4 separate regions of the Homo sapiens genome follow, and regions 1, 3 and 4 are each reported to be linked to region 2. Evidence: microRNA targets listed by miRTarBase, many of them from high-throughput screens and not tested one by one. Region 2 holds a microRNA gene; each other region holds the end of a gene's coding sequence.

Region 1 (7,125 bases), not on the chromosome of region 2:
AGTTATCACAGGGAAGAGGGAATGTGGTTGGAAGATTACTTACTTTATACTCTTAAAAATTACTGAATTTGGGCTGGGCGCAGTGGCTCACACCTGTAATCCCAGCACCTTGGAAGGCCGAGGCAGGTGGATCACGAGGTCAGGAGATCGAGACCATCCTGGCCAACATGATGAAACCCCATCTCTACTAAAATACAAAAAAAAATTAGCTGGGCCTGGTGGCAGACACCTGTAGTCTCAGCTACTTGGGAGGCTAACGCAGGGGAATTGCTTGAACCCAGGAGGCAGAGGTTGCAGTGAACCGAGATCGCACCACTGCACTCCAGCCTGGAGACAGAGCAAGACTCCGTCTCAAAAAAAGAAACAAAAAAAATTACTGAATTTGCAAAACTACTTAATAAAATAAAACAATTCTGATAGATTGCTTATCCATCTGTTGGTTCTCAGATGTGTTAGCTTAGGAAATATAATCAGAGATAAAGTTCTTTATAAATTCAATCCCTGAGCCTAGGACATATTTCTGTCTTTTTTCCTGAAGGTGCTACACTGTGTGTCATCTGCCAAGACAGAAGTTCCTTGCGCCAAACAATTGTCCGCTTAGAGCTAGAAGATGAGTGGCAGTTCCGCCTCCGGGACGAGTTTCAAACTGCTAACAGCAGTGATGACAAGCCTCTCTACTTTCTTACTGGACGTCATGTATGAGCTTTTGAAGAGACCAAAACAGCAAAAAGATGCCTAGGTGGGATGGGACAGAAACAATTTGGGATTTTTCTTTTTCCTTTAAAGTACAATCACTGTGGAGCAAAGTGCAACATATTTGTCTAAATTCTCCAAAGAACTCCCCAAATCTGATCCAGGTCTTTGGGGACATCACTTTCCTTCAGTTCCAATTACAGGACCCTTAAATTCAGGTAAACTCTATCCTAGGCAGTTATGCAATTACTTAAGATACGGTCTGCCCATGGGATCCTGAGGAGGATATACTTTGGAGAGTGAATATGGAGTTTGCATTATTTTTTTCTATTACTATGTTAGGGGGAAACTGACTGTCAGGATTAACTAGCCTGAATGTGTTACATGAGACTCATGCCATTGGTGTGGAATCAATTGAAGATTAACGTTTGAGGCCTGAACCCTCAGTTTCTCTTCAGATCTGTACTTTGGTACAGTATTACTCAGGGGTTTGAAATGATAGAATGTAGACGATATTTGTATTTAAAAAAAGAAGTAGCTTTGTCTTTCTCTGTGCAGTGTTAGTTTAAGATTTATAATCTTCTATGTATTGAAACTTTTGGCAAAATTTCCACAGGAGTTAGAAGTTTACTATTTAAACTGAACAAACAAATCAGTAAATGCAGAGCAGGCATTGTGTGCATTTATGCATCTTCTCCTAGCCTAATTCCTTTGCTTTACCCACTCTTTAAATGTGTTTCCAGTCTTTAAGAATATCTTATCTATGAGACTATGGAACAGTGATTAATCTTTTGCAAGAACTTAAGTCAGTTAAGAAGCTTTCAGCAGGTAACCTGCACCCACCGTTTGGTTGGAATTAAGCAGTTGGCACCAGCAAACCTAAATGTCAGGCTGAGGTTCTGTTGCAGAGTGAAACTAGTTTGTTTCCTTTCAGGGACTCAAGCAAAGCTTCCTTTAAAAGATGCACTAAATATTACCACCTTACACTGACAACGCCACAGAAATTGCCGAATTGGGAAATTGAGCCATAGAAAGAGAAATGTTTTTTTACTTAATCTTACCAGTGACTCTTGTGAGGAGTAAGGAAGACTCCATTAAGAGTCTTTTTGATTCATTAAAATCAGCAGGGGGTGTTTGTCCAGTATCGGCAATGGGAGGCATATGTTTCTACAGATTTCTCAAATATTTTAATCAAAAACATTATTTTTAGAAAGTGTTCTAGATAAAACTAAGTCTTAGAAGTTTACTCTTAAATTACTCCAGTTCTCATCATTGAACAATCTCTTGAGAGTTTTCTCATTAGCCCATATTTACTACTTTATCCCCACTTAAAATGGCCATTTTTACTTGAATCAATCTTGTTTGTGACCTGAAACTACTGAGGGGCCTACTAAGCCTGCATTTACTTAGAACAAATAGTGTTAATTGACCAGCTTTATTATCTTATGACAACAAGGAGTTTACAAAGCTAGTGAAAAAATGGAATGTATTAGACTAAAAATGGTTTGCAGATCTCTTGGTTTTAATATAGCTACTTATAATGCTTTAACTGTATTTTGAAGTGAACAATTCCTTTTAACCCCATTTTTAATTGTCCTTCAAAGAGGACCTGCCTTATATATGCTTTAAAAAATACTCCTTAATTTTAGTACAGCAGAATTTTTGGTAAAGAGGTATGTTTTGAAGCAATTTGGTTTAAATATGAATGTATTTCACTTGTTCCTGTTTTGTTGAAAGGGCCTAATGCAAATAATACCAAGAAACCCACTGTCTGTGCAATATTCCAATAACATTTACATAGGGCAAATAAAATACTTGAAAGAATTCTGAAACAATTGTACCTGGGGTGGATGGCCTCTCAGGGTTTCTTCTGGCTTTATGACTTCATAGTTTAAAGAACTTTTTTTTTAAGTAGTTACATCAGATGCAGGTACTCCATTAGTTAGGGCTGCACTCTGAAAATTCAAATTATTATTATGAGCTCTTAAATACTATTTAACTCTGGAAGAGATATGCCAGAATAAAGCCAAAAGACCATCACCCCTATAATGGAGAAATTGATCTGCCTATTCTTTTCAAAGCCTATCTTACTAATGTTTGGATCTTTTAAAATCATCTTATCATCAGTATAATTCTTGAGTATGTTAGGTCCTTCTTTAAGGATAAAATTGCACAAGCACAGGACACCATGATTTGTGTGTATATATATATATATCCTAGTGTGTTCAGCTTTAAGCTTTGCAATCCCTTAGGACACTGATGTGGGATGAATGGATTCGCTAGGCCCACACAGTAACTCACCTGTAGACCTGCTGAACCTCAGCATGTATGACAGTTCACACAGGTTAATACTGAATGTAAACGAAAAACTAGAAGACAATTGTTATAATTTTTTTTGGCTGTAATTTATGCAATTGCTTTTTGTGATTTTTAGAAAATGGGGCACCCGTGTTATTACTGTAAAATGTTCTTAACCAAAATTTGGTGAATTTCACTAGTCTACCTCACATTTTGTTAATGATTCAAAATTGTCTTGTGTCTACTGTTATATTTTTGTCCTTTGATTTAATTTGCTTAATGTATTAAAGTTATCTCCCACCCCCTCCAAAAAGTTATTTTTTCTTTATAGTTTTCTGGCATGTTTGTTAAGAAAACAAGCTCCCTGACTCTGGCAATGTCCTAAAAAGGCTGGAAGTCAGTCACATTATAGGTTGGACAACCAAGATTAAAGAGGTGTTGAAAACATACATAGTAGATACCAATCTTTTATTTGACAGATTGCAACTACACTCACTTTGATGTCCTTCTGGAAACAGAACAACTTTGGGTTGCTAAAACTAATACAAGGTGTTTGTTATTGTTAATCTCCAGTTAAAACTTCTCAAACTTTTTGAGAGTGTCTCAAAGTTGCTAGAACTATGTAGTATGAAGATGCTGTTATTGTAGTATGAATTATATCTTCTTAAAAAATTTTACCAACTTTTGAGAATAACAACTTTGTTGTCCCAGAAAAATGGCTTTCAATCTATTAATAAAGTGTAGTAAATTAAAAGAATTTGACATAGATTCCATGAAAACAATCTTCTAGGCCAAAGGACCCTCAGGAAGGGCAATAAATATTTGTAAGTGTAATGACAGACTTTCAGAGGAAAGTAAAGACTACTGGTGTTCCACTATACATTCCAAAGCAGCTGCCTTGAAAAGACTATTAATTAACTGTGAAACTGACTGCTGCAACATCACACTAAACTACTTAGGCCTGAAACAACATCCAGAGAACGAACATTTATCAAGCTTCTCTTTAGACACAGAAACTGGAAATTGGCCCTTAAAGCTTCCTCTGAGTCTAGGAGAATACTACTCTAACACTGAAACCTTGGCTTCACTGAAAACAAAACAACAACAGTAAAAATACTGCTAAAGATGACTTTAGGAATTGCCGCTAAGGCCAAAGAAAAAGTCATTCACATAATAAATTCACTGTGCTCTCAACTATCAAGTGTTGTTGAGTTAAAGCATCTACTTCAGTGACTATGACAATAGATGATGGTATTAAGTTAAAAAAAAAAAAAAAAGGCAACACCAGTAAGTTCTTTTCTGACCACTTCATTCCACATATTTTATTTTTACTAGTCCAGTGTATTTTATTTTTACCAGAAGGGTGGGGGTGGGGGGTTGCTAAAAGACAGAACTCATCCCTTTTTCTGCCTAAAGACTCAGGAGCCATGAGAAAGAAAATGTATGTCTAGAGTCACTACCCTAGAAATCAACTCACTCAGCAATCTCAACCCTAGCTGCAATGTGGATGGGCAGGAATACAGCTGTGTTCCCATCCAGAAGGATAAGACTCTATAGCTGGGCAGCCGTGCAAAGTAAACAAGAACAATTAAAATAACACTGCAGGTTTGTTGTACTCACTGACTGTCCTTACAACAGTCAGGCTTTCAGTAGATAAACCAAGTTCACTCTTGCATATTATGAAGTAGTAAAATACTGCTTTTTATCTGTGTGTCCATGCAGATAAAAGCATCGCCCATAAAATCTTGTAGTTCCTGACTATATTTGTGGCTCTTACCATGTCTCTATGCTAGATATTTTTATAAACAACCAACAACTACATGAGGGCTGCTAACAAAAAATCTATAAGCACCTTTATATAGTCAGCAATTACAGACTCACCCTCTTCTACAGTCTGTGGCCATTAGTGTACACTCACCGTGTCCCTGCTGCCTCCACCACTCCACTGAGACTGCTCTTTTCCTAACATCACTTGGGCTCTCTTCAGTCTTCAACTGTGGTATGACAGGGTTGATCATTCTTTGATTCTTGACATTTTTCCCTTGGTTTCTACCACTCTCTTCTGGCTCTCCTACCTTGCTGCTCATGCCTTCTTAGGCAGTCTTCTTTGAGACTCTTAAATGATGGTGTACCTCACAACTCTCTTCTACCTTCTCATTTTACAAACCCCAGGGTGACCTTGTGAACCTTCAAATAAATAAGTGAACTCATAAATTTGTTTCTCAGTTAGAACCTTTCTGAAACTCTAGATTCACATATCCAATTGTATACTAAAAGGTTTCTCCACTTAAGAGACTCTTTCTACAACCACCTTAAAATCTTGACCAAAACTGAGGACATCCCCATCCAATCCTCCCAACCTAATTCCCCTGTATTCCCATCTGTCAATCTAATTCAATTACCCAAACCAAAATTCCCACTTACCTTAACCTCTTTGCCATGATCTTTTTCTGGTTGTTTATAAATTCCTATCAATTCAACTGTGTCAATTCTTCAATTTTATCTTTTCAATGTGTATCTGTCTCGTCTTCATCTCCACATCACAGCTTTAGTTCAGTGTTTCAACACTTTTCACACAAACGGCTCTTAATTATCATCTAAGTTCCAGATTCCTCAATTATAAACCCTACCTCATAGGACTGTCGTAATGATTACATAAAATAATGCAGGACTAAACACACAGGGTCTGACACATAGCAAACACTCAAATGTTAGGTATTAACTAATAATACTATTCTTAGAGAAATACCTAAATTGTAAAATTTGGGAGGCTATATCTTCAGTATAAACATGAAAATAAACTGGTTTCTCAGTAATAATAACATATAAACCAACCACCCAATATACCCTCTTCCACCTCCAGGTCACCTTGAAACCAAGTCAAAAGTAGTCAAAGTAGTATACTATTGTTTATGGAAATTGGACCTGTATTATGGGATTAACAGTTACTAGAGAGTCTACACTATATCCCAAAATTTCATTCTGTTTTTTTTTTTTTTTTTTAAATCATGGTACCTGTCAGGCAAACAATGAGACCAGGATTGACTAGAACAGTCTCAAGCCCAAAGGGAAATGACAGTATCAAAAGCTAGGGCCAGGTGCAGTGGCTCACACCTATAATCTCAGCACTTTGCGAGGCCGAGGCAGGTGGACCACGTGAGGTCAGGAGTTCAAGACCAGCCTGGCCAATGTGGTGAAACCCTGTTTCTACTAAAAAATACAAAAACAAATTAGCCGGCCGTGGTGGCAGGTGCCTGTAATCCCAGCTACTCTGGAGGCTGAGGCAGGAGAATCGCTTGAGCCTAGGAGGTGGAGGTTGCAGTGAGCTGAGGTCATGCCATTGCACTCCAGCCTGGGTGACAGAGTGAGCCTCTGTCTCAAAAAAAAAAAAAAAAAAAAAAAAAAGCTAGACCAGCTTGATGAATCACGGGGAAATATTTACCGTGCCCTATCATTCTACCCATACAAAATGTAGAGTCTTATACCACTCTAGAAAAAAAAATTTTTTTTTGAGGTGGAGTTTTTTGCTCTTTTTGCTCAGGCTGGAGTACAATGGTGCAATCTCTGCTCACTGCAATCTCCACCTCCCAGGTTCCAGCTATTGTCCTGCCTTAGCCTCCTGAGCAGCTGGGATTACAGGTGCATGCCACCAAAACCAGCTAATTTTTGTATTTTTAGTAGAGACGGGATTTCACCATATTGGTCAGGCTGGTCTCGAACTCCTGACCTCGTGATCCGCCCGCCTCAGCCTTCCAAAGTCCTGGGATTATAGGCGTGAGCCACCGCGCCTGGCCTAGAAATTGTAAAAGCAAAAATTTATAGGGAAATAAAATGTATACCTGTTAATTTAAGGCCCTAAATTTTAGCCAGTTTTCAACTGAGATATGATCATTTCAGCTCACAAAAATAACCTAAGTTGAACCACAGTGGTAATTCATTCTTGGGCTGTGGGCCCTTCATTTATTTGCAACATCATAAAAGTACTATGTTACTAAAATAATCAGAAAGGATTTTGCCTTTGGAAATAAAGTTCAGCTGATTTGCTGCTGACACAATGATCCTTTGGCAAACTGGTGGAAACTGCCTTTAGGAAGCCAATGTTTTAATCATATTTCAAGATATCAAACCAAAAAA
Region 2 (7,125 bases):
TACTATGTGACCTAGCAATTTCACTCCTGCATATTTGCTAACAGAAAAGAAAATCTATGTTTACAAAAAGGCTTGTACGTGAACATTCATATTACCTTGATTCATAATAGCTTCAAACTGGAAACAGTCCAAATGACAATTAGCAAAAGAATGGATTAGCAAACTGATATGAGCATAAAATAGAATATACTCAGCAATAATCACGAACAAATTAATGATAAACACAACATGGATGAATTTTAAAAACATGCTGAGCAAAAAATGCCAGGCATATTACTACAGGACATATTACTACATATGTCCATAGATAAGAAGTTCTAGAATAGACAAAATAAATCTTTATTAATGCAAATTAGATCAGCGGTTAGACTAGATTAGGTGGCAGTGGATTGACAGAAAAGGAACATAAGATAAATTTTTGGTGTTAAAAACGTTCCTTGTATCTTGTTTGTGGTCATGATTATACAACTGTTTACACTGGCCAAACTCAACAAATTTTACATTTAATTGGGTGCTTTTTTTTATATTTAAGTTACTTCTCAATATGTTTCACAAAAAATTAATATGGAACAGGGAAATCTGAGCTTCAATTCATTCCATGTAAAACAATTTCATATGGCTTTGATTGGTTGCATGTTCAATTGCAGCCAAGTAGTTACCAAAATTATTCCTCATTCTGAGGCTGCCTGAACAAAAACACACTAAGTACAGATCAGGAGACAGTATGACCACTGTCTGGCCACAAACGTAATACTATGTCCTGTTCTTTCTAACATATTTTAAGAAAGCACTTCACTTTGGGAAGATGATGATGCTCATAATGAGAGATGGCAAAAAGAATGCTCAAGGTAACTGGAATTGCTTTTAGCCAGAGAAAGGGAAAACTTAGTTGGGATCTTACAGCCATCCTAAAATACTGCAAGGTTAGTGTGGCAGAAACTGCTGGATACTACCCCAATTTTTCCTTACTTCTTCATTAATAGAATTACAATTCTATTGAGTATGGCAACGTGCCCAGGTATAAAATGTATTTCATCAAATCCCATTTTAGTTAAGGCCAATGAGGCATATGTTGGTCAGGACTTTAAGAACAGACCCTTTAAAAGATCAGTTAGCCTTAGTGGGCATGTGCCTTTCTTCTTTCTCCAAGTGGAATATTACAATGATGACTATAGCTTCAGCCTTTATCAGCAACCATGAGGAAAAGACAGAGAGCTTGGGTCTAATATCTTCAAGACACTGAATTAACACCAACGCTTCATTCGATTTCTCATTTTGTGAGAAAAATATTTAGAGAAGTATTTGGAGAAGTCCACTGTTAATGAGTTTTCTGTTACATGAAGGAAAACACGAAACTCTAACTGATACTAGGTAGATATAGAGAATGCACAGACATGCATGTTTTCGCTCCAGAAGGCAGAGCGTGAGCAAGCTAAATATAGCTAGGTATTAGGTCAGTATGATGAAAAATGTAATGATGGAGCTTTACAAAAACTGAATGGGCTAGCTAAAAACATAGCGACTCCTGTACTAGCAGTTCAGTAAAGTCTGCAGGGCAACACGCCAGCTACACTAAATGAGGTCTGCCTAGGAAGCAGTGGAAAAAAAATTTTGTGAACTCCTAAGGGTTATTCCTTTAAACTCTAAGATGCTATGGCTGGACTTTTTTTAGAGTAATTATATTTGTCTATTTCATGTTATGGTAGGAATTTGCCCTAAGGAAGTAGAACTAGTTTAGCTCAGAATGGCAATATTTCTTCTAAAACTTATTAGGAAACTAGAAGGAACGCTTTGTGGATGTAGTTTTCCTAAAGGTCATGCAGAACTTCCAGGTATTACAGATTTTGAAAGATGAATAATAGCCATTTTAGTGGTTATCTTTTTTTTTTTTTAATAGATGGAGTTGTCCAGGCTGGAGGGCAGTGGCATGATCTTGGCTTACTGCAACCTCCGCCTCCTGGGTTCAAGTGATTCTCCTGCTTCAGCCTCCTGAGTAGCTGGGATTACAGGCCCCTGCACCACACCCAGCTAATTTTTGTATTTTTAGTAGAGACGGGATTTCGCCATCTTGGCCAGGCTACTCTTGATCTCCTGACCTCAGGTGATCCACCCGCCTTGGCCTCCCAAAGAGCTGGGATTACAAGCATGAGCCGTCGTGCCCAGCTCATATCATTCTCAAAGGACTTTTGTAGCACACAGAATGGTTTCTAAATAATATTATCCATATCTTGACTAACACGGTGAAACCCCATCTCTACTAAAAATCCAAAAAATTAGCCGGGCGCGGTGGCGGGCGCCTGTAATCCCAGCTACTCAGGAGGCTGAGGCAGGAGAACGGCGAGAACCCGGGGGGCGGAGCTTGCAGTGAGCCGAGATAGCGCCACTGCAGTCCGGCCTGGGCGAAAGAGCGAGTACTCCGTCTCAAAAAATAATAATAATAATAATATCATCCATAATATTAGTTGATAGTCTCTTCATAATTCTAAATCCAGCATTTTTCAAAGCATTACCAATGAAGGAGAACTTTTAAGATGAAGCTAAATATAAAAAAAAAGTGAATTACTGCAAATTACTATACATAGTATAATTTGAAATTTTGGTAATATTGTCTAAGACAAATCATCCTTTTGGGATAGTTTTTTTCCATACTGTTCAAACTACCCTTCATCCTATAACGGCAGACATGGCCTAATGATTCTCATTTTTAATCAACAGTGTTGTCAGACATTTCAATGATTCTGAACATAATGTTATGACATTCAGGGCCAGAGAGCAAGCATTCTCTACTTGCTCTCAGCTGAAAGCAAAGAGGTTCTCAAGAGCTGCCAGCCTTTCTCCTTTATGCTCTGAAAGCCTCCTAAACTTGTCAGTTTACTTCCATTACCCTTTTATTGAAAACAATGAAAGAAAAAAAGTTACTACGGTGTTTATACTTTTAAAGTGAATGTCTTTTGTAATAAGGTAGAAATATCACAGAACCATCGAATGTTGGAATCAGAAGCATGTTTGGCATATCATCAAGTACAATAGCCACATCCTGCCTATGTGGAAAGCTGGAGGGGCTAAAGGACCTCTCAAAGCTACACATGTAGAGTCAGCAGCAGAGCAGAGCTTAAAGCAGCAAGTGACTCTTACGGCCATCAGTAATCACACTCTTGCTTAACATGCAAATGAATAAAGCTATTTTTATAAAATCCCTCCCCCCCCCATATATTGGCAGTAACTCTAAATTCTAGTCATTTTTTAACCATTACAGAATAAGATTAGAAGCATCAGTAGTTAATGGTGATAATAATTTCCATTTTATATGGGGTTTTATGGTTCACAAATATATTTTATAAAATAAGTTTCTAACATTTCATTTTCTTATATTGAGGGCTTTTAAAAGAAATAACCAAAACCTATTTTATTAAAATTTGATATTTAAAATTATAGTTGAGAATAGTGGAAGATTTTTCCCATTATCTTTGCTCTCCTGGATAGCAACCAGATAAATGACTTCCCAGAGAAATGCATAGAGTCATATAAGATAAAACGTCTTTTTTTCTCCATTTTACTCAGAGTTTGATGATGAACTATGACTGGATATTGAAATAATCATTCTTTTATCCTTTGTAGTAAGGCTTACTTTGTCCAGTGGCAACATGATCAGACAAGCAGCTCTCAGATGACATGTGACAATATTAAATTCAATCTTAGCAAGCAGCTTCTCAATTTCACACTTGTGGTAGCTGGATTAACCCAATTATTTTTTGGAGGTTAAGGGAAACTTTCACATTTGCAGAATACCATCCTTCAGAAACCGGAATGTAGGATTTTGTTATCTCAAAGAATTTTATGGAGATGGAAAGATCAGTTAGTATTAAATTTTAGCACACAATCAGATGAAGGGTTTAGGAAGAAGTAGATATGATTACCTAATAATTCACTTTGAGTTCTTCACTTTGAGCCTCAAAAATGTGTGAAACTTGGGACTTTTACTAAGCATATCTTTCAGGCAAAATATTTTCATTGTACCAGTTCCAAGCTCTTGGTTCTAACACAAAACCCCTGCTACACATACACACACATGCACTCACACACACACAGGCTACCTATATATACACCTGCTATGTGTGTGGATATGTATTTACACATACACATATCAGGTGTATACATACGTAGCATGTATATATACACATACACACACACGCACACAGGCACACACATACTTGTTACCTATATATGTATACATGCACATATCAGGTGTATGTAAATGTAACATGTATATGTACACACACGCACACAGGCACACACATACTTGTTACCTATATATGTATACATGCACATATCAGGTGTATGTAAATGTAACATGTATATGTACACACACGCACACAGGCACACACATACTTGTTACATATATAATTACACATGCACATATCAGGTGTATGTAAATGTAACATTTATATATACACACGCGCACACAGGCACACACATACTTGCTACATATATATACAGTCAGGTGCTGCATGATGACATTTTGCTCAAGAACAAATCACATACATGAGGGTGGTTCCATAGATTATAGTGGAGCTGAAAAACTCTAGTGGCATTGTTCTCATTGTGACATTAGTGCAATTACTTAATTTTTAAAACAAATTTAGTGTAACCTAAGTGTACAGTGTTTATAAAGCCTACAGTAATGCATAGTAACGTCTTAGGCCTTCACATTTGCTCACTGCTCATTCACAGATCCACCCAGAGCAACTTCTACTCCCACAAGTTCCATGAAAAGTGCCCTATACAGGGGTGGCAATTTTTTTTAATCTTTTATATCATATTTCGCTGTACCTTTTCTGTGTTTAGATATGTTTAGATATACAAATACCACTGCATTGTAATTGCCTACAGTGTTCAGTACAATAACATGCTATGCAGGTTTGTAGCTTAGAAGTAATAAGCTATACGACATAACCTAGTTGTTTAGGAGGCTACACAATGTGTTTGTGTTATGTGCACTCTATGATGTTCTCTCAACAATGAAGTCACCTAATGATGCATTTCTCAGAAAGCATCTCCATTATTAAATGGCACATGAACGTATTTGCTACATATATACATACTGGCTATAAACACACACACACACACACACACACTCACACACACCTGCTACAGTCCTTTCAAAGTATAAAAAAAGATACCAAAATGTGTTAGAGATTCGTTTGTAAAATGTAACTATTTTCGGACCAGATGGATTCACAGCCGAATTCTACCAGAGGTACAAGGAGGAACTGGTACCATTCCTTCTGAAACTATTCCAATCAATAGAAAAAGAGGGAAACCTCCCTAACTCATTTTATGAGGCCAGCATCATCCTGATACCAAAGCCAGGCAGAGACACAACCAAAAAAGAGAATTTTAGACCAATATCCTTGATGAACATTGATGCAAAAATCCTCAATAAAATACTGGCAACCCGAATCCAGCAGCACATCAAAAAGCTTATCCACCATGATCAAGTGGGCTTCATCCCTGGGATGCAAGGCTGGTTCAATATACGCAAATCAATAAATGTAATCCAGCGTATAAACAGAACCAAAGACAAAAACCACATGATTATCTCAATAGATGCAGAAAAGGCCTTTGACAAAATTCAACAACGCTTCATGCTAAAAACTCTCAATAAATTAGGTATTGATGGGATGTATCTCAAAATAATAAGAGCTATCTATGACAAACCCACAGCCAATATCATAATGAATGGGCAAAAACTGGAAGCATTCCCTTTGAAAACTGGCACAAGACAGGGATGCCCTCTCTCACCTCTCCTATTCAACATAGTGTTGGAAGTTCTGGCCAGGGCAATCAGGCAGGAGAAGGAAATAAAGGGTATTCAGTTAGGAAAAGAGGAAGTCAAACTGTCCCTGTTTGCAGACAACATGATTGTACATCTAGAAAACCCCATTGTCTCAGCCCAAAATCTCCTTAAGCTGATAAGCAACTTCAGCAAAGTTTCAGGATACAAAATCCATGTACAAAAATCACAAGCATTCTTATACACCAATAACAGACAGAGAGCCAAATCATGAGTGAACTCCCATTCACAATTGCTTCAAAGAGAATAAAATACTTAGGAATCCAACTTACAAGGGACGTGGAGGACCTCTTCAAGGAGAACTACAAACCACTGCTCAAGGAAATAAAAGAGGACACAAACAAATGGAAGAACATTCCATGCTCATGGGTAGGAAGAATCAGTATCGTGAAAATGGCCGTATTGCCCCAGGTAATTTATAGATTCAATGCCATCCCCATCAAGCTACCAATGACTTTCTTCACAGAATCGGAAACAACTCTTTAAAGTTCATATGGAAGCAAAAAAGAGCCCGCATCGCCAAGTCAATCCTAAGCCAAAAGAACAAAGCTGGAGGCATCATGCTACCTGACTTCAAACTATACTACAAGGCTACAGTAACCAAAACAGCATGGAACTGGTACCAAAATAGAGATATAGATCAATGGAACAGAATAGAGCCCTCAGAAATAACGCCGCATATCTACAACTATCTGATCTTTGACAAACCTGAGAAAAACAAGCAATGGGGAAAGGATTCCCTATTTAATAAATGGTGCTGGGAAAACTGGCTAGCCATATGTAGAAAGCTGAAACTGGATCCCTTCCTTACACCTTATACAAAAATTAATTCAAGATGGATTAAAGATTTAAACGTTAGACCTAAAACCATAAAAACCCTAGAAGAAAACCTAGGCATTACCATTCAGGACATAGGCATGGGCAAGGACTTCAAGTCTAAAACACCAAAAGCAATGGCAACAAAAGACAAAATTGACAAATGGGATCTAATTATACTAAAGAGCTTCTGCACAGCAAAAGAAACTACCAACAGAGTGAACAGGCAACCTACAAAATGGGAGAAAATTTTCGCAACCTACTCATCTGACAAAGGGCTAATATCCAGAATCTACAATGAACTCAAACAAATTTACAAGAAAAAAACAAACAACCCCATCAAAAAGTGGGCGAAGGATATGAACAGACACTTCTCAAAAGAAGACATTTATGCAGCCAACAGACACATGAAAAAATGCTCATCATCACTGGCCATCAGAGAAATGCAAATCAAA
Region 3 (7,109 bases), not on the chromosome of region 2:
ATGTTGTCTAACTGTTCTCCCTGTTCTGAATTCAGTCAGGACATAAAGGTTTTTAAAGTCTTATTTCCTTATAAAGTGGTTTCCTGGGCCAACCATGCCCGAGTCATAGTGAACCTAACAAGACACCCTTTTCAGTTTAGAGTTCCTGAGAAGGTAATAATAGGTTATATTTGCCTTCTTCAACGTGTCTGACTACTCCCTTGTCTTCCCACTCCCCTCTGCCCTGCTTCACTTCTGCACAGGCTCCCACTGCCCTGGCTCCTGTACACCGTCATTCACAGATTCCAGCCAGTGGCTGTCAGCAGCAATGGCCTTTTCTGTGCCATCGTCCTTCTCTTCATCATGCTGCTCTTCGTCATCCTCTCTATCGCCCTCTGCAAGTGGCGAATGAACAAAATCCTGGGCTTCATCATGTTTGGCCTCTACTTTGTGTTCCTGGTGGTGAGCGTTCTCCTAGAAGACAGAATTCTTACATGCCCCGTCTCCATCTAGCAGGAAAAGCCATATCTTGCACCAGCAGCATGAATGGTCCCTCCACACTCTGGGCTCTGGGCTCCTTGACCTCTTGAGAAGAGGCAGCTGGCACACAGCCCTGGGTGCCAAGTGTCCCTCCTTGGTGAATTTGAGGAGAGATGGATTCACACTGGGCCCATTCACTTCACAGGCTGCTTCCACCCTGCCTACTGAAATGACTTCATGTAAAAGACAAAGAGAACCGTCAATACAGGGCTTCTCCCTATTCACCACTGACAAGTACACCTCGCTGGTCGGAGGTACAGTCGATGCAAACAAGGACACAGGCTATATATATCTATAAATACACATATTATAAATATACGCACATGAACACACAAATCCTGCCTGTTCCTGTACTATACCTCTCCTTGCATACCTATAGATTAGTACATACCTGTAAATAAAGACAAAGAAAAATTATATATATATATATAAAATCAGATATATATAAAAGTACAAATGCATCTTTTCAGGGATAGCTCTAGTATATTTATAGTACTTATTTGAAGAGGGGCATCAACTTGCAGTCTGGGCTTTACCTCTTAAGTACAAGAGGTGAACTAATGGAACCAACAAGACAAAGGTAGCATTGCTGTGACCTTCAGCCTACCTTGGACTTGCTGTGATCCTGCCTAGTAAGGTAGATGGTTTAGGGAAATAGCTTGCAGGGAGGAGGGCTTAGTGGAGAAGGTCTGTAGGGGCCCTGAGTTGAGCCTTCCAAAACATTCCTACAAGCCAAACAGAGAGACTATCTGCCCACCTCCACCAGAGTACCCTGACCAAGAAACTCAGGGTACTTAGGACAGAAAGAGGTAAAAACCCAGGCTGGGTGGCTTGGTTTGGGGAAGTGGGGAGGTAACCAGGGTTGGGTTGTTTTGTTTTGTTCTTATATTGTCCCAGCATGCAAGTAGAAAATATGACTACAAACCAAATTAGTGCTTTTTCTAGGACAGCAAGACTATATAAACTGAACCTGTATTTTTCCAGCGCATGTCCCATTATCATCAAAAGAAGAGGGGTAAGTTTAGCTGTGATTGTCATGTAGATATATTTTGATGCTAAGGGCTGCCAAGAGAGCCTAGATGTGCAATAAGAAGTCATCCAGTAAAGGTGCTTAGTGGGCCTTGCCACCTAATGGGATGTAAGGGCATAGTTCTTTAAAACGTTTTCCAGTGTAGTCATAAAGGGCTTTAGTGTCTGAAGAAATCATTATTCCCAATAGCACTAACTTAACTCTGATCAGCACTGCTTGGGTTGAGGCAACTTAGCGATGCTTGGAAAGGCATTTGCACACTCAGTGCACCCCAGGAAGGTTTCTGAGTGCCAGGTCGAGTGGTACCAGGACCAGGCTTTGGTTAAAGTTCTTGTAACATCTATGTCTCTTCTTCCATCAAGACCTTATCTGGGATTCTGTCTAAGTTTTAGAGTACACGGTATTTGACAGCTTCCTTATACTGGTTTCAAGCTATTCACTCCAACAATTTGATTTCTTGATTTTGCTCAACATTACATTGAATGCATGAAATTAAAATATTCCACGCCCCCAAGTTCTGTATGACACCTTGTGTGTTTTCTCAGATCTATGTCAGTCGAAAATAAAGCCAGCAAGGGGGAAAAAATAGGCAAACTGAATCAATGGAAAACTATGTAGAGCACTTTTCTTTTCTCCAAGTCATGCTTTCCTTAAAATCAGTTGAAAAATTGAATCAAGGATGGTTCATTATTCTGTACCCATCCTACGTCTAAGTTGGTACATATGGCATATGGGAAATTTCACCATATGTGTTCCTATCTCCAATCTATTCTGTCATTGACGCCTGCTATGATTTTGTTGTGAGCACATACCTCTTAACATAAGAGGACAGGATGCAGAACTCACAGCAGAATAAGAGGAAAGGTAACCTGACAGCCCCAGATCAAGCTCAGTATTCCTTCCAGAAAACCTCAGCTCACCCCACAGAGCATGGCAATAACAGGAAATGCCCATCATTCCTCTTCACCCAGAAGTAAAAAGCACTTCAAACCCGAGGCCCCCTGGGAAAACAAGAAATCAAGATGGCTGCCAGTCGGAGGCTGGCTTTCAAGTCTCTCCAACTCGGCAGATTGGGGTCTTCAGATGTGGGACAATGCCTTCCAAGACATTGAAACACCATCCAATAGAGGCGCTGAGTGGAACCTGCCACCTAATGGGAATGAATCTCATTCATCAAGGTCAGGACTTTGTACTGGGGCAAGAATTTGTCCTGCTTCCTTAGAGAGTGAAAGAATGAGGAAGTGAACTTTACGTTTAAAAACTCCAGTTGTTTTCCCTGTGTATTTCTTGAAGGGCAACCAAGTTGGTTATTGTGTGAATTTTATATTATTGACTGGTGCGTTGTTTGAAATAAGGTTTAAATAGGTGACTGACTCAACTGCAAACAGACCATGTAAAACAGAAGTTGAAGGAGACCTGATGCCGCCCTCTTCTTATTCCTGATCCTCCCTCTGCCTCCTCACTCCCTCCCATTTATTCCCAGCTTACAGTGAAGGCTGATCAAAGCAGCTATGGTGCCCTTTGCTTGTCTCGGAGCTCCACTTCACAGGAAGTGTTGTGGTCTTTCATGTGAAGTTGCATTTGAGAAGACAAAATTTCCAAGCCCCGTTCCCACATCAGTCATGTGCACTGAGCCTGACCTACAACAGCACTGCTCCCTCACTGGATGGGACACAAGTGATTCCACAGCCTGCCCTTGCTTTCCCTTCATTTCTGTGTCTGTAAGTGGTTATGTGTTGAGCCAGGGTAAATTCAGAGAGATGTGTACAGAGTTCAACAATGGGTCTTTAAACCATTCAAATCATTGGCATAATTATAAGAACTTTCCACACCGTGGTTTCCAAAACAGGTCATCTCTAACTCGTTTCCTGCATGCCTGTGTATATACATATATAAATATATACATATATATATATATACATATATATATATATATATATATCTTTATACCAGATCTATATGTACACATATAATATGACTTACATCATCACCCTCTGACCCTATCACATTCAGGATTCTAAAGCAGGGAGCATCAAGTTTGCCAAAGTCAAGGAAAAGGAAAGTCATGCACACAAACCAAAGGGAACATTTCTTCCTGATTTCATAAGGTTGTTTGTTCCATGCACATATATTTACAAATATACACATATGTACCCATATTTTCCCACCCTAAGAATATCAATTTATAGCCTTAAGGAAATCGGTCAGCCATATCCCTAATGCTGATATAGAGGCAAAGAATACACAACAGAAAATACAAAGCAAAAATTTAGACTGCAGATACTCTCTTTGCTTCTCTGGAGCAGGGTATAAAAGATATCAACAATTCAAGAGCCAACATTGTACTAATCAATCTAAAATAAATGAGTTGCACGCAAATGATTTCATTTATTCACAGCAAACCGAGCAGGTCTTGCTTGCTGTCACCGCCTACCCTCCCCCATACTTCCAAGGCAGCAGAGCAGCTTGGCTCAAACTGACAATTCCCAAATAGAAACTCCTAAATTGCATCTGAGAATGCCCATGCCAACTCCAGCTGCCCTCTGCACCTGACCAGATCCTGATGAACTGAAGCTGAAGATCAGATGGTGTTTATGCAGCTTCCCAGGACCTAAACTGAGTCAGGCAGTGACAGAGCAATGATATATGCAGGGACTAAGGGATAGGGTTGTTTATACCCTCGGCAGATGCAGCAGAATGTCCTAAAGCCTTGCCCAGAAGATTATAAAAAGAGGCGGAGACTGTTTTATATTCAGGAAAAATGCTTTGTAAGGCTTCTAACAGGTGTCACCTGACAAGGGCCATCATAATTTATTTTATAGGGAAGACATGAATCAGGTGGTTTGGAGCCCTTTCAGCAAAACGCAGCTGCCTCGCTGATTAGACATTTGACAATGTTAATGTACATCCATTCCTGGGCAGGGAGAGAGTTGGCAAACTCCCCACCACTGCACATAGCTTTTAAAGGCCTCTGGAACAGTGAGAGAAGAGATGAGCTACAAAGGGAGCCCACCCCCAGACCACTTTAACAAAAAGTTGACCAAAGAAAAGACACCTGGTAGAGTGGCTGGCCAGATAGAGCTGAAGAAGATGGAAGTTGCATTAAATGCTCTGCAGAAATTACTGCGTTGGACTATCTAACATGGGTCTGATGGCAGGCATTTCAGAACATGGCAGTGTGCTTTCCTCCCCACATCTACCAAACACACACCCACACCCCCACACACACGCGAGATTATGTGGATGCTATGCCTCCTTGCACCTGGACAGATTGTTTTTCTGGTAAGTAGGTGGCCCTATTATAGGTGGCAGCTGTGTTCCAGAAGAAACAAAGTGAAGCTGTTCTCAGGGTGATTTCTGGAGAAAACTACTGTCTCCTGAAAGCATGCATAGAAGTCAGTGCTCACTCTTGCTAAGCCACATATTCCTTAACGATCCGGCTTAATATTTTTAAAAGATACCTCCTCAACCCCTATACCTGTCTCAACAATACTGTCTTCAATTATTAGGTAAGGCCTTGTCATTAAGAGAGGGGTAGGAGAAAAAATAGAATAATAAGGAAAGGGAAGAAAGGAGATATTAATTTCCTAGGATTCCAAGAAAACAAGTGTCACGTGGAAATATATCCCTATGTAGTTTAAAACAGTAACAAATATCAGGCTATGTTTAGCCAATTACAAGAGCCCATATACAGTTTTAGATTTTTTTAAAAAATAATCTCAGGAAGACCTTGGGTAAGAAAAGTAACCCTGCCCTATTCCACCTTCTATTTACTGTTAGCTCCCTGACTCTGCCTCTGCCTCTGTCTTTGCGTTTCATTTTTAATCTCAGAGCTTCATATTTTTTAAATATATAGCAAACAAGAAAAGCAATAAGGGAACTACTCACAGCCAGCTCAACTCTATTACTTATGATTACACCATGGCAATATTCCTTTTTCACCAGGAGCTTTGGACCTGCGCAGGTTGTGGCATGTAATCACCCGGAGCATGTAGTCGTCTGTAGAAATCACAGGCACACTCATGTTTGCTCTGGAAGGAATCTGTTTTCCACAATGACTCCCCCCAGCTAATGTACACACTGGCATTTTGCATGCCTTCCTCACACATGGGGCACCAGCCTTGCTCAGAACCACCCAAACTCCACAGAGGCCCTTAATATGGCTAGGGACAGATTTCTTAAGAAAGAGTAAGAAGCAGCTACAAAGGACAAGCAAATCCACAAGTCAGGCAGCATTCGAGAGGCAAAAATGACCCTGCAATTACGACAGGCTAGGCAACTGTTTTCAAATTAGCGTACGAACAGTGAGGGACTGTGTAGAGCACCATATTATCTAAGCCAAAGCACTTCTACCAGATCATTCATTGACAGACTGGAAAACCTAATAAAATCTTTAAAAACAGACAAATATCTAAGTCTGAAAGAATGCCATGGAGTTTGCCTAGGCTTCCACCAAAGATTTAATTCCATTAAGAGGGTTTGTCTAGCCTATCACGCTAATCCAAAGGACAGTCCTCTTACGGGGGAGATCCCAGCATAGATGCTGGTGTGACCCAGCTCAATGATTAACAACCATCAGCATCAAGAAAAGCCTCCCTCCAAGTTAACCCAAACCCATCCACTTAATGACTTAACTTTTTTTTTTTTTTTTTTTTTTTTTGGCAAAAAGTAACTGCATCTGGGCACTCTTCACTCTTTGCCCCATAGTTGGAAGTTACCGCTATGTGACTCTTTACCTATTTTCAATTAAAATTATCTTTAGATTTTTATTTGAGTCTTTAACCCTCTTAATAATTTTTATAGTTCCTCTCTACTAAGCCTTTTTAAGTTCTTTATATTGTTCTTAAATGATGGAACCTTATGACTAATGATAATCACTGTCTGAACAGTGTTGAACTATACTGGGTGCAGCATGACCATGAAGCTCTGGTGAAGTCAAGGTCACAAACTGCTTTTAAGGTCATTAGGTCATAATCTCAGACTCACAAAGAACTCAAAATTGGGGAGACACCACTTTAGATTACTCCAAAACTCTGGGCCTGTACTTACCCACTAATTTATCAAGAGGAATCAATATTTTTATTTTAAATATGAAACTGGGATAAATGATTGGATCTCCACTTATTAACCAGTACTGCAGTGTGTTTATATCCTTTTGTGTGGTAGGTTGGATAGGATTTGTAAAGCTACTGATTGATCTCATGGGCCAGGGTTCACCAAAAGGATGGGAATTTGTTTCTGCATTCTTACATATTGGGTTGCATATTCCTTCATAATGGATCCATAAGTAACTAAGGCCTTGGAGACTAACAGTTCTCCAAAATACTCAGCTAACCAAAAGAAAATACTAATTTTTAAAATCATGTCATAAAAAACAGAAAAGTAAAAAAAGTCTGAAATCCTGAATAAAATTATTTTAAGGATGAAATTACATGCATAAATTAAGGGTAGATAACTTCTTGCCATTTAATTAAACAAATCCCCAATTCTTATCAGAATAAAACTGAAGGACAATGGATGCCTTTTGGGTTTTTTAATTTTTTAATATTGCACTTTATAG
Region 4 (7,125 bases), not on the chromosome of region 2:
GAGCACTCTGGCAAGCCATACAGTATAGGGGATCATCAAAGTGTTACTGATTGTAGTAGCCATGAACTTGGTTGAAATCTTCAAGAACAAGGGTAGAGAATGAGAAGAATAACAATGTAGACTACACTGGCAACCAGGGGCAGTTGGAAGAGAAGGAACCAGAGAAAATAGAACCAGAATAGCATGGAGCCCTGGAAGAAACCAAAAGAGTAAATCAGTTTTGCACTAATTGATGGTTTTAGTGGAAAAATGACAGAAAACCCAATTCAAACTTGTTTACATTGTTAATAAGACATATTGGCCCATATAACTGAAAACACAAGCCTCTGGATGGGGGGATAGCATTATACCAAGACAAATGAGAATCAACCCTAAGCCAGGGGTGAGGAATTCAGCTTACTTGCAACATTTAGCAGTCATATTGAGTGCCTACTATGTGCCAGGCATTGTTCTAGTCAATGAACAAAACAGGCAAAAAGTCCCTTGTCTGTGGACAGAACACACAAATGCCTCTTGGTATCTCCCCACACTCTCTTTTCATTGAAAGGCAATGCTTCAAAAAATTGGAAAAATTATCTATGTGGAGGAAGATGAAGAGAGAAAACTTTAGAATGTAATGCAAATTCCAAAACATTTGCTGGGAATTTTAACACGATTTTGTAGGAATATGTGAAACTTCTGTACTATTATGAAATGGAGGGGTGACATAGGGAAGCAGTACAGTATGGATAAAAATTCTAAAATTCCAAAATACCACCCATGTTTTAAAGTCCAGTTATGAATTCAGATTAGTCAGTTTTTGACTTAATCAAATTGAGTTGCTGCATTTATTCGGATTATATAGACCTGTAAAAATACTTAGAGGTTTCAAATGTCTCTGGTAGAGCTTTGTACCTAACTTGTGTGACATATTTTAAATGTAGATTATGTTCAAACCTGCATTAATCCATTCATATTTTAAATTTAAAAATATAATTAGCAATAAAAGAAAGCCTCATGCTCAGCTATTATATCCAACTAAGCACTACCAGTTTCTCCATCCCTCTCTTCTCTGAAGCTAACACACTGTACATCCATGGGTACACTATGTCAGCTCACTAGGCCTATTTTCCATTCCACAATTTGAAAATGATGAAACCTACCTAATTGGATTTTTGGAAACTAAAATATTATGTGACTAAACTTTGTGAATTCAAAAGCACTACACAGCATTAAATTTTAAGATTAGAAAGTTGCAAGTTTACAACTGAGTCCAGATCTTAGTGTTTTAATGGTGAAAACGCATTGCCAATTTTCTCAGTAATTTTTTTTGGCCAAAGCAGTTGAATCAGTAATATTTTTCTGATTCCAGTTAGAATGTTTCCCATAAAACTCTATGAAGCTATTTACACTTCAAATTTTAAAACATGGCCCACATATGCTTAGTTATTTTCTCAAATTACCCTGTACAAAAAGCCATTCATGCCTGATATGGTTTATTTCTTTTTTTTAGAGATGGGATCTTGCTCTGTCACCCATGCCAGGGTACAGTGGTGCATCATAGCTCACTGCAGCCTTTAACTCCTGGGCTCAAGTGATCCTCCTGCTTCAGCCTTTCCCAATAGCTAGGACTACTATCGTGCACCACCACGCCTGGCTAATTTTTAAATTTTTTTGTAGAGATGAGGTCTGTATTAGTCCATTTTCATGCTGCTGATAAAGACGTACCCAAAACTGGGCAATTTACAAAAGAAAGAGGTTGAATTGGGCATACACTTCCATGTGGCTGGGGAAGCCTCACAATCATGGCATAAGGCAAGAAAGAGCAAGTCACATCTTACCTGGATGGCAGCAGGCAAAAAGAGCTTGTGCAGGGCAACTCCCATTTTTAAAATCATCAGGTCTCATGAGACCCATTCACTAGCATGAGAACAGCACGGGAAAGATCTGCCCTCATAATTCAGTCACCTCCCAATGGGTTCCTCCCATGACATCTGGGAATTGTGGGAGTTACAATTCAAGATGAGATTTGGGTGGGGACACAGCCAAACCATATCATTCCACCCCAGCCCCTCCCAAATCTCAGGTCCTCACATTTCAAAACCAGTCATGTCTTCCCAATAGTCCCCCAAAGTCTTAACTCACTTCAGCATTAACCCAAAAGTCCACAGTCCCATGTCTCATCTGAGACAAGGCAAGTCCCTTCTGCCTGTGAGCCTGTAAAACCAAAAGCAAGTTAGTTACTTCCTAGATACAATGGGGGTAAAGGCATTGGGTAAATACAGCCATTCCAAATGGGAGAACTGACCAAAACAAAGGGGCTACAGGCCCCATGCAGGTCTGAAATCCAGCAAGGCAGTCAAATCTTGAAGCTCCAAAATGATCTCCTTTGACTCCATGTCTCTCATCTGGGTCATGCTAATGCAAGAGGTGGGTTCCCATGGTCTTGGGAAGCTCTGCCGCTGTGGCTTTGCAGGGTACAGCCTCCATCCCCACTGCCTTCATGGGCTGGCACTGTCAGTGACTTTTTCAGGCGCATGGTGCAAGCTGTAAGTAGATCTACCATTCTGGGGTCTGGAGGATGGTGGCCCTTTTCTTACAGCTCCACTAGGTGGTGCCACAGCAGGGACTCTGGGGGTTTCAACCCCACATTTCCCTTCTGCACTGCCCTAGCAGAGGTTCTCCATGAGGGTCCCCATCCCTGCAACAAACTTCTGCCTGGGAATCCAGTTGTTTCCATACATCTTCTGAAATCTAGGCAGAGGTTCCCAAAGCCCAATTCTTGACTTCTGTGTACCTGCAGGCTCAACACCACATGGAAGCTGCCAAGGCTTGGGGCTTGCATGCTCCGAAGCCATGGCCTGAGCTCTACGTTGGCTCCTTTCAGCCATGGCTGGAGTGGCTGGGATACAGGGCACCAAGTCCCTAGGCTGCACACAGCACAGGAATCCTGGGTCCAGCCCACAAAACCACTTTTTCCTCCTAGGCCTCTGGGCCTGTGATGGGAGGGGCTGCTGTGAAGACCTCTAACCTGCCCTGGAGACATTTTCCCCGTTGTCTTGGGGATTAACATTTGGCTCTTCATTACTTAAGCAAATTTCTGCAGCCAGGTTAAATTTCTTCTCAGAAAATGGGATTTTCTTTTCTATGGCATTGTCAGACTGCAAATTTTCTGAACTTTCAAGCTCTGCTTCCCTTATAAAACTGAATGCCTTTAATGGCATCCAAGTAACCTCTTGAATGCTTTGCTGCTTAAAAATTTCTTCCACCAAATACCCTAAATTATCTCTCTCAAGTTCAAAGTTCCACAAATCTCTAGGACAGGGGCAAAATGCCACTAGTCTCTTTGCTAAAACATATCAAGAGTGACCTTTGCTCTAGTTCCCAACAAGTTCCTCATCTCCATCTGAGACCACCTCAGCCTGGATTTCATTGTTCATATCATTATCAGCATTTTGGTCAAAGCCATTCAACAAGCCTCTAGGGAGTTCCAAACTGTCCCATATTTTCCTGTCTTCTTCTGAGCCCTCCAAACATTCCAAGCTCTGCCTTGTACTCAGTTCCAAAGTCACTTCCACGTTTTTGGGTATCTTTTCAGCAGTACCCCACTCTACTGGTACAAATTAACTGTATTAGTCCATTTTCATGCTGCTGATAAAGACATACCAGAGACTGGGCAATTTGCAAGAAACAGGTTTAATTGGACTTACAGTTCCACATGGCTGAGGAAGCCTCACAATCATGGCAGAAGGCAAGAGGAGCAAGACACATCTTATGTGGAGGGCAGCAGGCAGAGAGCTTGTGCAGGGCAACTCCCTGCACTGATGGTTTTTAAAACCATCAGATCTCGTAAGACTCATTCACTATCATAAGAACAGCACCGGAAAGACCCACCCCCATAATTCAGTCACCACCCATGACACGTGGGAATTGTGGGAATTACAATTCAAGTGAGATTTGGTTGGGGACACAGCCAAACCAGATCAGGATCTCAACATGTTGCCCAGGCTTAACTTAAAGTGCAGGAAACAATCAGAAGTATCAAGTGACTCGATTCTCTAAAATGAAAGATACTTGGACAGATGATTTTTCTTATGTATATGGATTTTTAAGACTTTTCCCCACTAGGTTTCCACTAGCTCAACCAAACTTCACCTCAGTACCCACATGGACACTTGTGCAAACACGTTCCCAGGACATCTCTAAAGGGGAAAATAATCTATTCTCTAATGTGATGATGAATGTAGAGTGATATGACAGTCCGTTTTCCAACCAGGAGATACAAATGGCTGAGTCAGACTTGCTCCAAAATATTTAGCCTCTTCCCTAAGTCCTGTCTTCCTCCTCATACAACATACTCTGCACATCTCCCAGGAAAGAGAGAAAAAAGTTTGCTTTCATGCTAACTTAAGAACCTTGCAATATTTCAGTAACTTCTGAGATATTTGCTCCACCAACACATGCATCCAAATTTTAGATTTCTCCAGAGCTTGGGAATCACAACTTCACAAATATAACTTGATTTGGTTGTGTTTGGTGTCATGTACATACTATGGTCTTGCTTTGTCACTTGATGCCACTCCTTAGTATATGATACCACAGATTTCCAAATTCATTACAAAGACTACAATCTTAAAAAAACATATTCTTGCTTTAGCAATTACTTCAATTTTGGGATTCATATATTTGCAAACCTGGAGGATGGGCAGCTATAGAATTGGTTTTTCTAAACTCGATGATATACTGGAAGCCATCATGCTGTTATGGACCTTCATTCCACAAAGCACCATGGCTGATGCAATCACTCTTAATGACTTTTATGAATTTTAATCTACTTGATACACATGCCTAGGTAAACAAATCTCGCGTAATTGTTCAAATTTTATCTTCCACAATGGGGAAAAACAGATTTAAAAAAAAATACTTAGATTATGTCTTTTTCTTTCTAAATTATTTTTTGTAAAGATGAGGTCTTATCATGTTGTCTAGGCTGGTCTCCAACTCTTGGCCTCAAGCTATCCTCCCACCTTGGCCTCCCAAAGTGCTGGGATTACAAGCATAAGCCACCATGCTTGGCTGTCTTGTTCTTATACACTGAATGTGCACTGTTCTGTAATTCTTATCTCTTAAGGGCTTCAGATTCATGGAAAGATTGATGCAGAGTGTAACCTTTTTATTGTTCAAAATGCTACAAATAACTGCATTTTGGAACTCAACGATCACACCTTCCCAACTACTTCTTGTTCATTTTATTATTACTATACGCAAAGCATTAAAATAGAAGCTGGGTAGAGAAAACATGTAGAAGTAGGGTTACCAGATAAAAGATGTTCAGTTAAATTTGAATTTCAGATAAACACATTTTTTGTATATGTCCTGAATATTAAATATACTAAAACATTATTTATCTGAAATTCAAATTTAACTGAATGTCCTGTAAACTTACAATTTAATAAAGAAATTAATGAATAACCATAAAGCACAGATGACAAGTACAGTCATCCAATCAGGAGAGGAAAAGATCTCTACTAACGGATCTCCAGGTACAACAGAAAAAAGTACCTGGAAGAGATGACAATTGATGTCATTCCTGAAAGATGACTAAATTTTGACTGGTGGACAGGTGGTTTAATGTGATGATTTTGAGGTTCAAGTGTCCCAAGTTAAATTCCAAATGAACCACTCACTAGCTGTGTAACATCAGACAAGCTACTCAAGCACTCTTTATTATAAAATGAGAATACTAATAATACCTTGCGCTAGGTTGTTTAAGGATCAGAGAAAATATATGCACAAAGCACCTGGAACACAGGAGGCACTCTTTAAATGGTAATACTTCTTATTACAACTTAAAATGTCACACGACAAATAGGGTACTTGTCACAGACAAACATTCAAATGTTAATGTTATACAGTAATAGTAATATTGAATAAGTAATTTTATTTCCATGATCTATTTACACTGTACAAAGACTGTTGAAAAGCACCCTACAAGTTCACAGTACATTACAATATATTTACTTTAAAAATATATTCCTTTATAAAAGGTTTATAAGAACATTGGCATGTCAACATGTGACAAAACTCTCAAAGCATGTCACCAATTCTGTGAGAGCAAGAATGCATCCAAGTGTTATCAATTTCACAATCACAAGTCACCAGTTGAGTTTTAAATACATACATGTTTTAAATAAAAAAAGAATTCTATAGTGGAAAGTTCTTGAGGCAATACTTATTAGTTCATTAACGTATGCATTTTCATGGAGATGTGGCATAATAACCCACAATATCAACTTAATCTGTCCAAAGAAACATTTCAACAAGTTTAGCAGTACAGAAATTCTGGTCATTTGTTTCTACTTTTTCTTCTTTGCTGGTTCTCCTGGCTCTACTTTGCGCTTTTTAGAAGTATGCTCATCTTTTTCATCATCTTTAAATAGAAAAGGAAGAGTTTCAATCAGTAATTTTAAAAAACCCAACATGTTAAGCATTAAAATTTCACTGGCTTTATACCAAAATTATTACCCTCATCAATTAATGTTTCTCTCAGAGTTTCCCAATAAAAAACAAGAATTAACTTTTAGAGCTCTGATTTTTAAATGCAAGTGAAAGTGAGCAATTTTTTTTTTCAATTGCAGCCATACAAAATTCACAAAGTAACTCTTTAGGTGCTATACTAAGGTAGCTTAAAATAAGTGACTTTACTTCCCCCAAATCAGACTTTTGAAAAAGGCTCCCAAATACTCAGCAAGCTTGTCCAACCTGCCTTATTTGTTGTTGTTGTTCTGTTTTGTTTTAGGCTTTTAGCAGCCTGAAGCCATGGTTTTTAGTTTCTGTCTCTAGTGATAAGCAGAAAAGAAGGATGATGAAGGGGCTTTATTGGCCCAACCAATAACAGAAACTAAGAACTCATGACTGTATTCTCTCCCTTGGACACCACTGCATGATAGTATTTACATTGTATATATTAAAATACAATCAATGCTTTGTAAGAATGGAGCATATTGTTTTCTTTTTACAAAAAATAGGTATCACTCTAACGATGACATTATTTAAGTGGCTATCAGCTGTCCTTTTCCTTTCAATCTGCTTTCTCTCCTCCAAAAACAACTTCTTCTGCCCCATCACCTTCTCCACCCACCCCAA

The links. The annotated mature microRNA hsa-miR-4789-5p reads GUAUACACCUGAUAUGUGUAUG and lies in region 2 at 4,135-4,156, opposite strand. An mRNA with a match to its seed (bases 2 to 7 or 8) in the 3' UTR can be bound and repressed. Matches are read on the target gene's strand: a 7mer-m8 pairs with bases 2 to 8, a 7mer-A1 pairs with bases 2 to 7 and ends in A, and an 8mer does both.
Region 1: the mRNA of GREB1L is a reported target of hsa-miR-4789-5p. Seed matches in the 3' UTR shown: 7mer-m8 at 2,891-2,897.
Region 3: miRTarBase lists SLC24A2 as a target of hsa-miR-4789-5p. Seed matches in the 3' UTR shown: 7mer-m8 at 3,428-3,434.
Region 4: the mRNA of C1orf52 is a reported target of hsa-miR-4789-5p. Seed matches in the 3' UTR shown: 7mer-A1 at 5,887-5,893 and 8mer at 5,067-5,074.

What each region holds. Positions count from the first base shown.
Region 1 is chr18:21,522,120-21,529,244 of GRCh38, forward strand. It overlaps GREB1L (GREB1 like retinoic acid receptor coactivator), which reads left to right. Exons shown (of 33, transcript NM_001142966.3): 33 at 539-3,993. The coding sequence ends at 702. Among named protein-coding and RNA genes, the nearest start is that of GREB1L-AS1, 75 kb to the left of the region's middle.
Region 2 is chr3:175,366,583-175,373,707 of GRCh38, reverse strand. MIR4789 (microRNA 4789) reads right to left here and starts at 4,168; the gene lies at 4,087-4,168. All of the region lies in intron 5 of NAALADL2 (N-acetylated alpha-linked acidic dipeptidase like 2), which reads right to left.
Region 3 is chr9:19,509,536-19,516,644 of GRCh38, reverse strand. It overlaps SLC24A2 (solute carrier family 24 member 2), which reads left to right. Exons shown (of 11, transcript NM_020344.4): 11 at 243-7,109. The coding sequence ends at 492. All of the region lies in intron 4 of LOC105375988 (a long non-coding RNA gene), which reads right to left. Among named protein-coding and RNA genes, the nearest start is that of MAP1LC3BP1, 50 kb to the right of the region's middle.
Region 4 is chr1:85,246,294-85,253,418 of GRCh38, forward strand. It overlaps C1orf52 (chromosome 1 open reading frame 52), which reads right to left. Exons shown (of 3, transcript NM_198077.4): 3 at 3,660-6,409. The coding sequence ends at 6,336. Among named protein-coding and RNA genes, the nearest start is that of C1orf52, 9.8 kb to the right of the region's middle.